2 separate regions of the Homo sapiens genome follow, and region 1 is linked to region 2. Evidence: fine-mapped expression QTL. Tissue or cell type: skeletal muscle. Region 2 holds a variant in brackets; the other region holds the start of a gene. All regions are shown on one strand. Distances are from middle to middle.

The links. PIP is the estimated chance that this variant, and not a neighbour inherited with it, causes the effect.
Region 1: it holds the start of TNFRSF10D, and the variant in region 2 is fine-mapped to the expression of TNFRSF10D in skeletal muscle (GTEx, PIP 0.98).

The regions. Positions count from the first base shown.
Region 1 is chr8:23,158,921-23,167,038 of GRCh38, reverse strand. It overlaps TNFRSF10D (TNF receptor superfamily member 10d), which reads left to right and starts at 3,012. Exons shown (of 9, transcript NM_003840.5): 1 at 3,012-3,253. The coding sequence starts at 3,104. RefSeq lists an enhancer at 3,155-3,274.
Region 2 is chr8:23,138,688-23,146,814 of GRCh38, reverse strand. TNFRSF10D (TNF receptor superfamily member 10d) reads left to right here. Exons shown (of 9, transcript NM_003840.5): 5 at 894-1,147; 6 at 1,726-1,757; 7 at 2,180-2,365. Among named protein-coding and RNA genes, the nearest start is that of TNFRSF10D, 21 kb to the left of the region's middle. RefSeq lists an enhancer at 1,498-2,225. The variant A/G (reference allele first, on the strand shown) is at 4,145.

The sequences.
Region 1 (8,118 bases), 20 kb before region 2:
GTTGGGTGTGACAAGAATGACCCAATTTGTGCGATCAACTTTCACATTCTCCTTCCCAACTCTATGACCGGGACATTGACGACTGTCCATGAGCCAGAAAAAAACTCAAGTACAGGGGCTTTTGCTGCTGTTCAAATCTTCCATAAGGCTAGGAAAATAGCATGCAATCCAACCCACCTAGCCAATTTGCCTTTGCCTTCTTCCATCAGAGGGGTGGCCTTCCAAGTAGGATGTTGTCCATTCATCTAGGAATGACTGTCTACAAACTAAGTAGCTCTTGGTCAGTAAGTAAAGAGCTGTGTATAGGGCAATGTCCAAGTGACCACAGAATCCAGCAGCTCCTCACCCAGTTCCAGACTCAGTCTGAGGGGAACAGAGGCTCCCTGCTCATGAGTGTCTCCTCTTTGCCTTCCTCAGGCACCAGGATCCCATATCAACCATTTCCATTTTTTAGGCTGAGTGAGGTGGCTCACGCCTGTAATCCCAGCACTTTGGGAGGCTGAGGCGGGTGGATCACGAGGTCAAGAGATCGAGACCATCCGGGCCAACATGAAGATCCCTCGTCTCTACTGAAAATTCAAAAATTAGCCAGGCGTGGTGGCATGTGCCTGTAATCCCACCTACTCGGGAGGCTGAGGCAGGAGAATCGCTTGAACCCAGGAGGCAGAGGTTGCAGTGAGCCTGGATCGTGCTGCACTCCAACCTGGCAACAGAGTGAGACTCCATCTCAAAAAAAAAAAATCCATTTTGTAATAGAACTCTTCTGGGACTGGCCTCCCCGTTAGAGCTTTTCCAAGATTCCTGAAGACATCATCAGTTTTTCAGGTTTCAAGATTATTTTATGTCCTTCAGTGACAGGGGAGACTTCAGTTAGTGTTCCATCTCAAGCTAGTAAGTGCCTCTTAAGTGGAAACTTGACTCTAAAGGCCCAGTTCCTTGGAGGTGCTCACAGCCTTTTGCCATTAGCCCTAGTCAGTGCTCCACACAGGGCACAGAGAATGCGTTGTTACCTGCAGTCTGGTTTCTGGTCTATACTGTGTGGTCCACCCTCCAGGGCCAAGGGAGCTAAGGTGCTCTAAGGACTTTCCTGCAGGCCCTGGTGGCTCTGTGTTAATGCTGTCAGTCTTCCTGAAGTCCCTGACCTTTCACCTCCTGCCTGGATCTGCACCCCGCACACATTCCTGACCCCACACATTTCTCATTGCCTGGGTCCTGGCACACATTTCTGACCCTAGCTCAGTGTCTGGGGCCTGGCACACATTTCCGACCCTAGCTCAGTGCCTGGGGCCTGACACACATTTCTGACCCTAGCTCAGTGCCTGGGGCCTGACACACATTTCTGAGTCTAGCTCAGTGCCTGGAACCTGGCACACATTTCTGACCCTAGCTCAGTGCCTGGAACCTGGCGCACATTTCTGACCCTAGCTCAGTGCCTGGGGCCTGACACACATTTCTGACCCTAGCTCAGTGCCTGGGGCCTGACACACATTTCTGAGTCTAGCTCAGTGCCTGAAACCTGGCGCACATTTCTGACCCTAGCTCAGTGCCTGGGACCTGGCACACATTTTTTTTTCTTTTTTTTTTTTTTCACAGAGTCTCGCTCTGTCACCCAGACTGGAGTGCAGTGGCACGAATCTCGGCTCACTGCAACCTCCATTTCCTGGGTTCAAGCAATTCTCCTGCCTCAGCTTCCTGAGTAGCTGGGATTACAAGTGCCCGCCACCACGCCCAGCTAATTTTTGTATTTTTAGTAGAGATGGGGTTTAACTATGTTGGCCAGGCTGGTCTCGAACTCCTGACCTCTTGATTCGCCCACCTCAGCCTCTCAAAGTGCTGGGACTACAAGCGTGAGCAACCGCGCCCGGCCCTGGCTCACATTTCTGACCCTAGGTCATTGTCTGGGCCCTGGAAGGTGCTCAGGGTGATCCATCGCTCAAATCCAAGCCTGTGGAGAGGATGACATTTCATTCCCAGGTTTCTCATGAGCCAAAAAACCTTCATTTCTATAGCGCTATCCTCTTCTATCTACCATGTGAGGGGTCAGGAGCCGACTCATCCCAAGGGTCTAGGAGTCCTGCCATTGACCTTACTGCTTAGGGTCACAAGCTGGCACCCTTCAAAACCACACATTGGGTCTGCCCTCACAGCGGCAGTGTGTTCAACTGGATGGGGAGGTAAGTAGCCCAAGGTCAGACAGTTGGACCTGGGTAGACAATAGACTTGGGGACAGACTTTGGAAGGCACTCCCCTGATTCCCCTGTCTCCATGGGGCCTCAATACTAGAGCCCTCAAGGTTGGTCAGGGAGTGTTTGTGCTTTGACCATGCAAAGGGTGCCAGGTTGTGGCTAGGGATGCCCCCGGCGTTCCTCTCCCTCCTACCTACTCCTCAGCCTCTGCAGGTGCCTGTCATGGCCTCTGTGTCCTTCATTCTGTCCACTCATGTGTTCACTGGGCCCCTCCTTGGTGCCAGGCACCCGCTACTGAGGGATACCAAGCCCCTGCCAGAGAAGCTTGGAGCTGGGTCACAGCAGCAAGGAGGCTGGAGACATCAGTGGCATCAGTGCACTGGTCAGTGAGGCCGCTGTGGGAGGAGGGAGTGGGAGCAGAAGCTAAGAGTGGACTGAAGTCCTGAGGCCAGGAAGTAGTTCAGGGTTTAAGAAGAGGAGAGACAGGCGGCCCGGGGAGGGAGCAGGCTCAGGATGGGCCTCCAGTGCCTCCTCTGGAGCTCACTACCCAGACTACAGCAGCGCAGCGGGCAGCGCCTCAGCTCCTTCCCCTTCTGCTGCCTACAGCCTGGACAGGACCCGGAATCAAACCGCAGGCCCTGGGTCACCGCTGCCGGAAAGAGCCAGTTCCTGTCCGTCCATGCACCCACCCACACAACCTGGGCCCTCCTGGAGGTGCTGGGGGAGACCCAGCCTGAGTGCCTGGAAGTGACTGCGGGAAGGGAGTACAACTGACCACGCCTTTTTTCCGGGGTATAAAAGCGGAGGAGCACGTTCTATTCTGGCAGTGTAGCTGCGAGAACCTTTGCACGCGCACAAACTACGGGGACGATTTCTGATTGATTTTTGGCGCTTTCGATCCACCCTCCTCCCTTCTCATGGGACTTTGGGGACAAAGCGTCCCGACCGCCTCGAGCGCTCGAGCAGGGCGCTATCCAGGAGCCAGGACAGCGTCGGGAACCAGACCATGGCTCCTGGACCCCAAGATCCTTAAGTTCGTCGTCTTCATCGTCGCGGTTCTGCTGCCGGTGAGTCTCCGCCGCGGTCCCTGGCTGGGGAAGAGCGCACCTGGCGCCGGGAGTGGGCAGGGAGAGAGGGGGACACGGTGGGGATGCTTGGCCCGGGTCGCCTGCGGCCGGGCATGTCTGGGCAGGACGAACCCGCCGTCGGAGTCAGGGGAAGAGTGGGGTGCCCGGGCTGGGCAGGAGCGACCGGGCCGCGAGGGAGCAGAGCGCGCGCTCCCCCTGGCTGTCCCGTGCGGCGAGGACCGCACTGAGCTGCCCCAGAGGAAGTTCCAGAATCAGCGGAGGGAGGGAGTCAAGATGGAAACCCCGGAGTGAACCTCAGGAAGCCACAGAGCGGTTGCCTCTTTCGTTCGTTCGTTCGTTCGTTCGTTCATAACGTTAACCCAGGCCGGTCGCGGTGGCTCACGCCTGTAATCCCAGCACGTTGGGAGGCCGAGGCGGGCGGATCACCTGAGGTCAGGAGTTGGAGACCAGCCTAGCCACCATGGTGAAACCCCGTCTCTACTAAAAATACAAAAATTAGCCGGACGTGATGGCGGTCGCCTGTAATCCCAGCTACTCGGGAGGCTGAGGCAGAAGGAGAATCACTTGAATCCGGGAGGCGGAGGTTGCAGTGAGCCGAGATCGCGCCATCGCACTCCAGCCTGGTCAACAAGAGCGAGACTCCGTCTCAAAAAAAAAAAAAAAAAAAAAAAAAAAGTTAGCCAGGCGTGGCAGCCTGCGCCTGTAGTCCCAGCTACTCAGGAGGCTGAGGCAGGAGAACTGCTTGAACCCGGGAGGCAGAGGTTGCAGTGAGCCGAGATTGCACCACTGCACTCCAGCCTGGGCGACAGAGCGAGACTCTGCCTTAACAAAAACAGACAAACAAACAAACAAAATTAACCCTATGTTTACACTGTTACACGTGTTTCTTGGAGATCAGTTTAACAAACAGCCTGTGAAAAAGCTTTCCAACGCTGTTTTTTGTAACTTTCATTTCCTATAGAACCCTGAAAGTGGCAGGAAGCGGTTAACCAAGGTGCTTGCAGTCAGTGTCTTCCACTGCCACCCGTGTGTCCCCTCTGTATCCCATAGGCAGGACCGCGGGATGGCCCCTTCCTTAGGCATAAAAGATGTAAAGTTCTCGTTGTGAGTTGGGTTTGGAAACTGAGATTGGTAGTGGGGTGCACAAGAAGGACATAAAAATAAGATGTGCAGACTGCCAGGACTTTTTCTGAGTGACTGACGTTTCTGCCAACAGTGCTTTCTAAGGTTTCTTACGTAATACCAAAAAACAAAACGGGGAGGATAAAACAAGATTACATGAACCATGAGAGTCTCCATGTTTTCTTTCAACGAAGTAATACTAAATTCAGAACAGCAGTGACATTTTCACCTCTCAAAAATTACACAACTGACTTCTACAATAGTTTATAGTGGGTGGACCTACCTGAGGCAGCTAGAAGAATGGCTGTGTCAGGACAGTGGCCCTGAAGAGAGAATGTGTGGATGACCTGTGTAGACAAGACCAGCAACCTGAATTTCACAGTTTTGGGAATGTGAACTCTATGCGTCCCAAAGGAGGCTTTGATCCCTCCATCAATCTTGCCTTATTAAATGCATTTCAATGCACAGTTGCTTTTTAAAATTTTGGAGCTAGCACAAATCACATTAGATGTTTTATGGCAGTACATTCAGATTGATTTTCTTTTAAACAAGGGTATTGTATTTTACTACATGGGTAAGCCACAGGTTAATTCACTGTTGCCATCTAGAGGCAGCTGGTTATATCCCATCCCGATGGGATATAACCCAAAGCAAATTTGCCTTTGCTAATTCCAACAGCATTGTACTAAATACCCTTGTATGTATCGTGTGTCCACATGTCCATGCGCACCAGCTTATTGGGCAACTCCTTAGAAGTAGAATTTTACTTCTACTTCCGTGGGATAAATCATTTCAGAAGTTTCTTTAGATGTTTACGAATTTTCTTCCAAAAGACCATTGAACTCAGCTTACACTCACACCTAGTTCACACATGTGCCTGTATCCCTACACCCTTGTTACACTTAGCTTTCATTCGTTGCTAGTCTAGGAAGTAAAAGGTGATTCATCACATTGTTATGTACTTTCATTCCTTAATGGTATTAGGAATTTTCAAGGATACGGGAGTTTTGGTAGTGGGAGTAGATGACCGGGGGATCCAGATGAGACAGCAGGGGAGGGTGGCAGGGAAGACTGAATTCCCAGCTGTGAACTTGGAGAACCGTGGTCAGCTGGGGCCAGTCCCTGCCACCTGCCACGCCTGTAAATGGAGATAAGGTCTCCATCTTCAGGCTGTCAGGAGGACATCAGATGAGCCTGGAGCTGAGCTCAGTTCCTGACCCCAGGTCCTGGCTCTGTCAGCGTTGGACTGTTCCAATCTGTGTGACAGAGGCTTCCGCCCCGCCCTTCTCTTTATCAAAGTAGGAATCGAAAAGATCCAACGGCCCAGAATCTCGGACTCTGAGGCTCTCAAGGACTCCTGAGATTGGAGGCTGGGAACAGCTGGGCCCTGCTGTGCTTCCCCTCCAGCTCTGTGACACTGGTGTGGCCCCAGCTCCTGCCTGTAAAGTGAAGAGGAGATAAAAATCTTCAGCAGCCCTGTGTAAACCTCAGAGGGCTGTGTTAGCAGGTGTGGGAGGATGAACCACATCCTCAGGGCTGGTGTCAGTCACTCCGGACTGGATCCCCAGGGCACATGTCCTCCACCCAGCAGAGGCTGCACCTGTTCCTACTTGCACCTCCATACCAGGCTCCCTGGCCTTGGGGCAGAAGCTTCTGAAGACTGGGGTGGAGCACCATGTGGAGGGGCCATCGAGGAACAGAGGAGCCAGAGTTCAAGTGAGGACAGCGATGGCACTGCAGGGCCACAGCCTGGTTTACCTGCCAAGTTTCCAGTTGTGCTTCTGGTGGGTGTCCGGCCCGGGTTGGAGTTTGAAGATGAGCAGGAAAGGTCTCCATCCAGGTGGCTGCAGATGGCTGCTCACCCAGCCCCTACTGAGAGGCCACGGTCCCAGTTCTGGTTCTCTGTCCTGTATCCAGGAGTGGCAGGGTAGCGAGGCTCTAGCTTCCAGGTTGGGGATGGAGACAGTGGGGACAGTGCCATGCCCCGAGCCTGTGCTGTTGGGCAGCTGGTATCCTGCTCCCAGCCAGAGAGTGTACATCTTCGTGTAGTGGATTTTCCTAACAACCAGGGGACATGAGGGCAGGTTGTTTTCCCTGTTTTACAGGTGGCAAAATGAGATTCAGGAGCAATGTCTCCAGCATTTTTGTCCTCACCTTCTGAATAATAGCAGCCATATTTGGGCCTCTGAAGGGCTAGAGTTCTCTGAGGAGCTGCTTCTCTGATCTCTGTCCTGCACTTGGCCTCTGGGAGCTCCTATGGGTCCTCAGCAGAGTCCACAGGGCTCTTCGGAGTCCCCTCCCTGTGCCACAGCCTGGAGCCTGTCCTTAGGTGGTAAGCTGAGGCCGCCACTGCGCTCACCTCATGGGCTTGGGGGGAAAGTGAGTCACCCAGGAAATAGACAATGAGCTCTTTATTGTCTTTGGAGTCTGCTGGAGCCAGGGAGGACAGATGAACCCCATGTGAATCCTGCTTCCTGGAGCCCACAGTGTGGTGGGTGAGGTGACACCAGGAATCATATAACTAATAGGAGGTAGCATGAGGGAGGCCTGATATCTCACCACCATTGCCTCCCCCTCCTCCAGAGAGGCCGTGTTGGTGCAAGGCTATAGGATGTGGTATTGTTGGCGTGGAGGATGGTGTTTGGTTAGAGTCACCATTGAGAGTCATAGAGGGAAGCGAAGCTCCCCTTGAAGGGCTTTTTTTTTTTGGCTGGACCTGAGAATTAAATTGACATAAGACAGGTACACAGGAGAAAAGCACGTACGACTTCTTTTTTCTTGAGATGGAGTATTGTTCTGTCACCCAGGCTGGAGTGCAGTGGTGCAATCTCGGCTCACTGCAACCTCCGCCTCCCAGATTCAAGCGATTCTCCTGCTTCAGCCTCCTGAGTACCTTGGGATTACAGGTGCCCACCCTTGCGCCTGGCTAATTTTTGTATTTTTAGTAGAGACGGGGTTTTGTCATGTTGTCCAGGCTGGTCTCGAAGTCGAGCTCAGGTGATCCGCCCATCTCAGCCTTCCAAAATGCTGGGATTACAGGTGTGTGCCACCATGCCCAGCCAACACACACATTTATTTAATGCAAGTTTTACCTAGCACAGAGAAGCAGTGAGAGTCAGTTACTTATATATTGAATTGGACCAAGTAACTTGTGAAGAAGCTAGTAAATATATGGAGGCTAAAAAGCTGAGTGGTTCTGTTCTAACAAGGTCTGCACAGTAATCTCTTGGCCTCGACTTCTCATCCTTAAAAATAAGGAGATCGTCCTATGTTTCCCTGGGGACTTTCATCTCCTGCTTTTAGGAAACACAAAAGAGGTCAAAGCATCTTATTGCGCCTGCTGTTTTTCAGTAGCCTTTAACTGATAATAGTCAATGGGCCAGGGTGGGTGGGCAGGTGCGATGGCTCACATGTATAGTCCTGCCCAGGTGGGTGCATCCTTAGAGCCCAGGAGTTCAAGACCGGCCTGGGAAACATAGCAAAATGCTGTCTCAAAACCAAAAACCAAAATAAAACCAAAAACCACAGACACAGACACACACACACACACAGAAAATCATGTCGTGTGAAGGAATACAAGCAGAATGCATACCATGTGATTCCTCATCTTATTAAAATACAACTAATCTATTGTGATAAAAAGCAGAAGAAGCATTGCTGGGGACATAGGAGCAAAGCAGAAGAGAGGATTACATTGAAAAATGAAGAAACACTGCAGGACG
Region 2 (8,127 bases):
CCCCTCCTGGTCCATCTGCCTGTCCCCACCCCTACCCCCTGCAGCAGCCCCTTCCCATACCCTCCCCAGCAGGAGTCCCTTTGTCCAGGCTGAATTGTTCACTGGGCACAGGAGGTGACTTTCTAGGTCCCTTGAACCTTTTCAGGCAACCTAGGAAATGTAATTTCCTTTTGAAATCAGAAGAAAACACTTGAATCCAGCCTGGCTTGTATTTTTCCTTACTCTAAGTTGGTTTAAAAAATGTAATTTTTAATATTTTTTATGTGGGCAGGGACCCATAAAGACAAAAGTGTCCGTAGCCCACAAAAGTCATAATAAGGCCATGGGTGGAGCTCCCTTAAGTTCCCATGAGGACCTGAGCCCACCCAGCCGGCCTCACCCCTGGCCCCCGATTTCTCACTAAGTCCTTCTTTATCCTATTTGGGTTTTAGGGGCAAAGAGTAACTTGCTCTTCTCTGGCCCTCCAGTGTTTGCTGTGGTTGGGAGGAACCAGCGGCAGACAGGGTGGGGCGAGGACTCACTTGTACTGTGTGTTAACTGGAGGAAGGGGCTCAGCTTGTGGCCACAGGGGCTTGTGATCTTCCCCTGGAGTGCGGCTCCTCCTAACGCAGGCCTCCCCTGCAGCCCAGGGAAGCTCAGTGTGTGCCCAGCACAGAAGGCTCCTGGATCTACAGCTCTGACCCCAGAGCAGGGAGGCCGAGGGGCTGAAGTGTGCATGCTCAGACCCTTCCCCAGCCTCAAGAAGGGAGCACAGGGGGACCCACTGCTGACACGAGGAGCCTGTCCTCCTGACGCCTTCTCAGGGACTTTGGGCAGGGAGGGTGGCTCCTCTTTCATCCCACCTGGCCAGCTTTCCATCAAGAGTCCCTGTCTCCCTCTCTGTGTGTACCCAGGTGTCCCAGAGGGATGGTCAAGGTCAGTAATTGTACGCCCCGGAGTGACATCAAGTGCAAAAATGAATCAGCTGCCAGTTCCACTGGGAAAACCCCAGCAGCGGAGGAGACAGTGACCACCATCCTGGGGATGCTTGCCTCTCCCTATCACTACCTTATCATCATAGTGGTTTTAGTCATCATTTTAGCTGTGGTTGTGGTTGGCTTTTCATGTCGGAAGAAATTCATTTCTTACCTCAAAGGCATCTGCTCAGGTAGGTGCTGGCTGAGGGTGGGAGCGCTGGGCACTGTCTGCCCTGCCCTCTCCCACTCCGTTCCCACAGACAGTAATCCCCATCCCTGCCCCTGGTCCAAGCGTCTCCAGCCTGGCTTGGTCTTCCTTCTTGTGATCGCCCCATCCCCACGTCCTGTGTATCCCCAAGGACCCTGGTCTCATCAGTCCCTCTCTCAGGGCTGGGGGACCCCTCATCTCCCGGAGCCAACTCCAGGAGGGCAGGGCCAGTTCCTCCTATCTTCAGGCCCAGCCAGGCAGGGGGCAGTCAGCTCCTCAACTGGGTGACAAGGGTCAGGATGAGAAGTGGTCGTGGGATTTATTCAGCCTTGGTCAGAGCAGAACACAGAGATTTTCCACGTGTTGGTTTTTACTCTAGTTCCCCTTCTCATCCCCCTTCCTCAGGGTGTCCCCTAATTGCAAGGCCCCATTCTGTCCCCAGCCCCAGGGCTCCTTGTCCAGTGTCCCAGCCCCCAGCCAGCCCTGCGCCCCACTGTCCTCTGGGAGGGAGGTGCTGCATGGGCCCCTCCCCGCCTGCTCAGGAGACTGCTTCTTTTCCAGGTGGTGGAGGAGGTCCCGAACGTGTGCACAGAGTGAGTTGGTTTCTCCAGAAACTGGGGGCTTCGTGGGTTCAGGAACTGCTTCCCATCCACTGCCGAGCCTGGGTGGGCACAATCCCTTGTCCTCATGGCTGCCCTGACTCTCTGACATGGCCTGGGGGATCTGGGCTGACTGTGGGGGACACACGGCCATTTTGAGCAGCACACAGACCAGCAGGCCGTGCTGCAGCCCTGTCCTTCCTGCAGCCTCGGTGACACCATCACTCCACAGCTGGCCCCATGGGGATGGGGTGACCACCTGACCCACCTCAGCATGGGGTCCTGGATGTGCTGAGCCTCAGCTGCCTGGGGTGACCTCATTGGAAGGGGTTGGGGATGGCAGGTCCAGCTGTGTACTGGGGACCCTGAAGCTGAGCCCGGGGTGTGGACTTGAGTGGGCTCTTTGTCTTCCCAAGGTCCTTTTCCGGCGGCGTTCATGTCCTTCACGAGTTCCTGGGGCGGAGGACAATGCCCGCAACGAGACCCTGAGTAACAGATACTTGCAGCCCACCCAGGTCTCTGAGCAGGAAATCCAAGGTCAGGAGCTGGCAGAGCTAACAGGTGTGACTGTAGAGTTGCCAGAGGAGCCACAGCGTCTGCTGGTGAGTTGAGGAGGGACTGTGCCCTGCCTGGCGTGCAGCCTGCACAGGACTTTGTAGACAGTGGGACATGGCAGTGCCTCCTCTTTCCTGGCCCAAGGGGACATGGAGCCTTTGGGAGACAGGGGACTGCAGGGGACGGAGCAGCTGCACTGAGGTGGTGACCGTGCCAGTCTGCAGGACATCTGCTTCTTACTCCCTGTCCTGTCCTTGCTGTGTCCCCAGAGCCTGGATCTCCACAGGCATAGAGTGGGTGTCACAGGGTTCACTGAGGACTGAATAAGGCTGCACAGTCTCCATCGTGTGCTCCTAACAGAAGTCAGGGAGCCCTTGCTTGAAACAGCGGAAGTTTTAAATGTTCTTCAAAATTCTTACTACATTGAACATATTTCACAGTAAATCTTTGTCCAGATTTCTGATCAAGTATGTAAGGAGGCTTCTGGGAAGAAGTAGGATTTCTGAGTCAGTGTGTAGAAGTGCTTTTGTATTACAGAAACACACACATCCAGTTATTCACATCGATTCACTAGTTTTGATATGACATTGAGTAGGTGTGAAATCTGGACACACATTTGTTTTTTTTTAAGTTCTTTCCTTCAGGATAAAATAAGATGATCCTACCTAATTTTTTGTGGACTTTTAAAGAATGATTTGGTTTGTAGCATACACCAGTGGAACGTAGGTGCCATTTCTTTTGTGATGCTGTGTGAAGTGAGGAATTCCCTGAATTGTTGTGAGTCACTGTCTCCTTCCTCCACGCCTGTTTAGGAACTGATTCTCCTATTTTTCTCTGCTTTTGGCTCCTCTTTGATCACTTGTCAAATACTTACCTAGACAAGGTTCACTTTCCACCCATTTTCTTCCTTTCCTATAACTATACCCCATTTTTTTTAATGAAGGGAAGTATAAAAAGGTAAGGAAATAAACAAAAAATATCAACAATTACTCCACGCTGCTGAATCGCATTGCACCTTTGTTTTGTAATTTGTAGAGATCTGATCTTGCTATGTTGCCCAGGCTGGTCTCAAACTCCTGGCCTCAAGTCATCCTCTCACCTTGGCCTCCCAAAGTGGTGGGATTACAGGCATAAGCCACTGCACCTGGCCGCGCTGCACATTTTTTGAAAGTGGTAAATGCAGAGCCACACATCTGCCACACTATAGAAAGGTGCTCAGTCGGCCGGGCGCCGTGGCTCATGCCTGTAATCCCAGCACTTTGGGAGGCCGAGGAGGGTGGATCACAAGGTCAAGAGATGGAGACCATCCTGGCCAACATGGTGAAACCCCACCTCTACTAAAAATACAAAAAATTAGCCGGGCGTGGTAGCGGGTGCCTGTAGTCCCAGCTACTCGGGAGGCTGAGGCAGGAGAATGGCGTGAACCCGTGAGGCGGAGCCTGCAGTGAGCCGAGATCACGCCACTGCACTCCAGCCTGGGCTACAGAGTCAGACTCCATCTCAAAACAAAAACAAAAACAAAAAAAAAACAAAGGTGCTGAGTCATAGTGGTAGTCCCCTAACACTTCCTCCAGCCCCCAGCCCTTCTTCATTCAGGTGAATACAACAGATAATTTCTTGTGATTCTTTGTAGAAATCTTTATGCATATGCCATGTATATTCATACAAGCGTATGTACATTTTGTTTACATTACAGGGATTACTTTACATATAATACACTGCCAAGGAAACTTTTTTTCATTTTTTATTTTTCCTTTTTCAAATTTATTTTGATTCAGGGGGTACATATGTAAGTTTGTTTGATGCTGAAATTTGAGGTATGAATG[A/G]TTTTATCCAGGTTGTGGGCACAGTATCCAACAGTTAGTTTTTCACCCCTTCCTCCTCTCGCTCCCTCCCCGCCCTGGTAGTCCCCAGTGTCTATTGTTGCCATCTTTATGGTCGTAAGTACCTGATGTTTAGCTACTACTTATAAATGAGAACACGCAGTATTTGGTTTTGCGTTCCTACATTAATTCACTTAGGATGATGGCCTCCAGCTTCATCCATGTGGCTGCAAACAATATGATTTCATTCTTTTTTATGGCTGTGTGGTAACCTATGGTGTATATATGCCACATTGTCTTCATCCAATCCACTGTTGATGGGAACCTAGGTTGATTCCATGTCACTGCTATTATGGATAGTGGTGTCTTTTGGTAGAATGATTTGTTTTCCCTTTTTTTTTTTGAGAGGGAGTCTCGCTCTGTCACCCAGGCTGGAGTGCAGTGGCACAATCTCGGCTCACTGCAACCTCCGCCCCTCCAGGTTTAAGCAGTTCTCTGCCTCAGCCTCCAGAGTAGCTGGGATTACAGGCATGTGCCACCATACCCGGCTAATTTTTTGTATTTTTAGTAGAGACGGGGTTTCACCGTCTTGGGCAGGCTGGTCTTGAATTCCTGACCTCGTGATCCATCCACCTCGGCCTCCCAAAGTGCTGGGATTACAGGTGTGAGCCACCGCGCCCAGCAGATTTGTTTTCTTTTCTATGTATACCCAGTAGTGGGTTTGCTGTGTTAAATAGTAGTTGTTTTAAAATTCTTTGAGAAATCTCCAAACTCCTTTCCATACTGGCTGAACTAATTTACATTCCCACCAAAAGTATATAAATGATCCTTTTTCTTCATAGTCTCGCCAGCATTTACTGTTACTGGCTTTTTAATAATCGCCATTCTCACTGTATGAGATGGTATCCCACTGTAGTTTTGATTTGCATTTCTCTGATGATTCATGATGATGAGCATTTTTTCATATGTTTGTTGGCCACTTGTATGTCTTCTTTTGAGACATGTGTGTTCATGTCTTTTGCCCATTTTTAATGGGGTTGTTTTCTGTGTGTTCATTTAAGTTGCATATGGCTCCTGAATATTAGACCTTTGTCAGATGCATAGTTTGTAAATATTTTCTCCCATTCTGTAGGTTGTCTGTTACTCTGTTGATACTTTTTTTTTTTTTTGAGATGTACTCTCGCTCTGTCACCTAGGCTGGAATTCAGTGGCATGATCTCAGCTCACTGCAACCTCCGCCTCCCGGGTTCAAGTGATTCTCCCTCCTCAGCCCCCCTAGTTGCTGGGATTGCAGGCACGTGCCACCATGCCCAGCTAATTTTTGTATTTTTAGTAGAGATGGGGTTTTGTCTTGTTGGTCAGGCTGGTCTCGAACTCCTAACCTCAGGTGATCTGCCTGCCTCGTCCTCTCAAAGTGCTGGTATTATAAGTGTGAGCCCCCACACCCGGCCTGTGGAGAGTTTCTTCTGCTGTGCAGAAGGTCTTTAGTTCAATTAGATGCCACTTGACAATTTTTGTTTTTATTGCATTGCTTTTGAGGACTTAATCATAAATTCTTTGCCATGGCTGATGTCCAGAGGGGTGTTTTCTAGGTTTTCTTCTAGAATTCTTATAGTTCATGGTCTTACCTTTAAACTTTTAATCTACCTTGAGTTAATTTGTGTATATGGTGAAAAGTAGGGGTCTAGTTTTCGTTGTTCTGCATATGGCTAGCCAAATATCCGAAGCATCAGCTGTTGAATGGGGAGTTGTATTATTCCATTTTCATACTGCTATGAAGAAATACTTGAGACTGGGTAATTTATAAAGAAAAAGAGGTTTAATGGACTCACAGTTCCACATGGCTGGGGAGGCCTCACAATCATGGCCTGAGGTGAAAGATGAGCAAAGGCACATCTTACATGGCGACAGGCAAGAGAGCGTGTGCAGGGGACTGCTCTTTATAAAACCATCAGCTCTTGTGAGTCTTATTCACTATCACAAGAACAGAACTGGAAAAACCAGTCCACGTGATTCAGTTACTTCCAATAATTTTTTCCAATTCTGTGGAAAATGACATTGGTAATTTGATAGGAGTAGTATTAAATCTGTAGATTGATTTCAGCAGTATGCCCATTTTAGCCATATTAATTCTTCCAATCCATGAGCATGGAATGTTTTTCCATTTGTTCATGTTATCTATGATTTCTTTTAGCAGTGTTTTGTAATTCTCTTAGAGATCTTTCACATCCTTGGGTAGAGGTATTTCTAGGTATTGTGTGTGTGTGTGTGTGTGTGTGTGTGTGTGTGTGTGTGTGTCTGTTGTAAATGGGATTGTGTTATTGATTTGGTCCTCAGCCTGAACATTATTGGTATATAGATATGCTACTGATTTTTTTTCTTTTTGAGACAGAGTCTTGCTCTGTCACCCAGGCTGGAGTGCAGTGGCGCGATCTCAGCTCACTGCAAGCTCCACCTCCCAGGTTCACGCCATTCTCCTGCCTCAGCCTCCCCAGCAGCTGGGATTACAGGCGCACACTGCCACGCCTGGTTAGTTTTTTGTATTTTTAGTAGAGGTGGGGTTTCACCGTGTTAGCCAGGATGGTCTCGATCTCCTGACCTTGTGATCCGCCCTCCTTGGCCTCCCAAAGTGCTGAGATTACAGGCGTGAGCCACCGTACCCAGCTACGCCCCGTTAATTTTTGTATTCTTTAGTAGAGACGGGGTTTCACCATGTTGGTCGTGCTGGTCTTGAACTCTTGACATCGTGATCCGCCTGCCTCGGCCTCCCAAAGTGCTGGGATTACAGGTGTGAGCCACGGTGCCCGGTGCTACTGATTTTTATACATTGATTTTGTATCCTGAAATTTTGCTGAAGTCGTTTATTAGTTCCAGGGGCCTTTTGGTGGAGTATTTAGGGTTTCCAAGGTATAGAATCATATCGTCCATGAAGAGTTTTCACTTCTTCATTTCATATCTGGATGCCTTTTCTTTCTTTCTCTTGCCTGAGTGCTCTGACTAGGACTTCCAGTACTATGTTGAATGGGAGTGGTGAGCGTGAGCATCCTTGCCTTGTTCCAGTTCTCAAGGGGAATGCTTCCAGCTTTGGCCCATTCAGTATGATGTTGGCTGTGGGTTTGTCATAGATGGCTCTTACCATTTTGAGGCATGTTCCAATGGGAACTTTCTAATGTTTTTTAACATCCAAAAGAGCAAACACCTCTTCCATACTTTTTCAAAATGTATTATTTTACCCAGATAAAATTTAGAATTAAAAGATTTCCTCCATCCTTCCCTCCCGAAAAACCTCAGTTGCCGTTTTATCAATTCGCTTTAAAATTAAAAATTAATCTAGAAACACTGAATATTTTATTAATATTCAGTATTTCCTTATCAAAGGAGATAACATTTGGTGTCAAGTATTTTATTGTAACTGAGTTGTGATTTGTGTTCCTCTTCAAATAAATTATTCCTGTTTCTTATGGCTGTTTAGTATTTTGTATCCATTATGAGTTGGATAACCTTGTAATTCTGTTTGCTAATTTATTGCATTTGCTATGTTTTTAACATTCCTCCAGACATACATTTCTATTTCAATATTGTAGTTTCATCTTAGGGGTTTTAAATGACGTTGAAAATAATGATTATTGTGTCTGCCCTCTTCCAAAAGTCTTGCCTCATTTTAATTTTCCATCTTGTTGCCTAGGCCAGACCTTTCAGAACAATATTCAGCTGTGCTTAGGGAAGGCAGGTGTTTGGGTCCTGATTTGATTTCTGGGGAAGGCCTCCAAAGTGTCACTCTTAGCAATGGCATTCACTTTTGGTTTCATATAGAAATTCTCATCATCAAGAACACAGCTTACTATTCTAAAAGGGTTTGAAAAAAATCAGAATTGCTGTTTAATTTTACCAAATGTCTTTCCAGCCTCCATAGAGACTGCCATTTTATTTAATTACGCTATTGATATGGTAGAGTACTGATGATCAAAGATCATTTACAGTCTTGG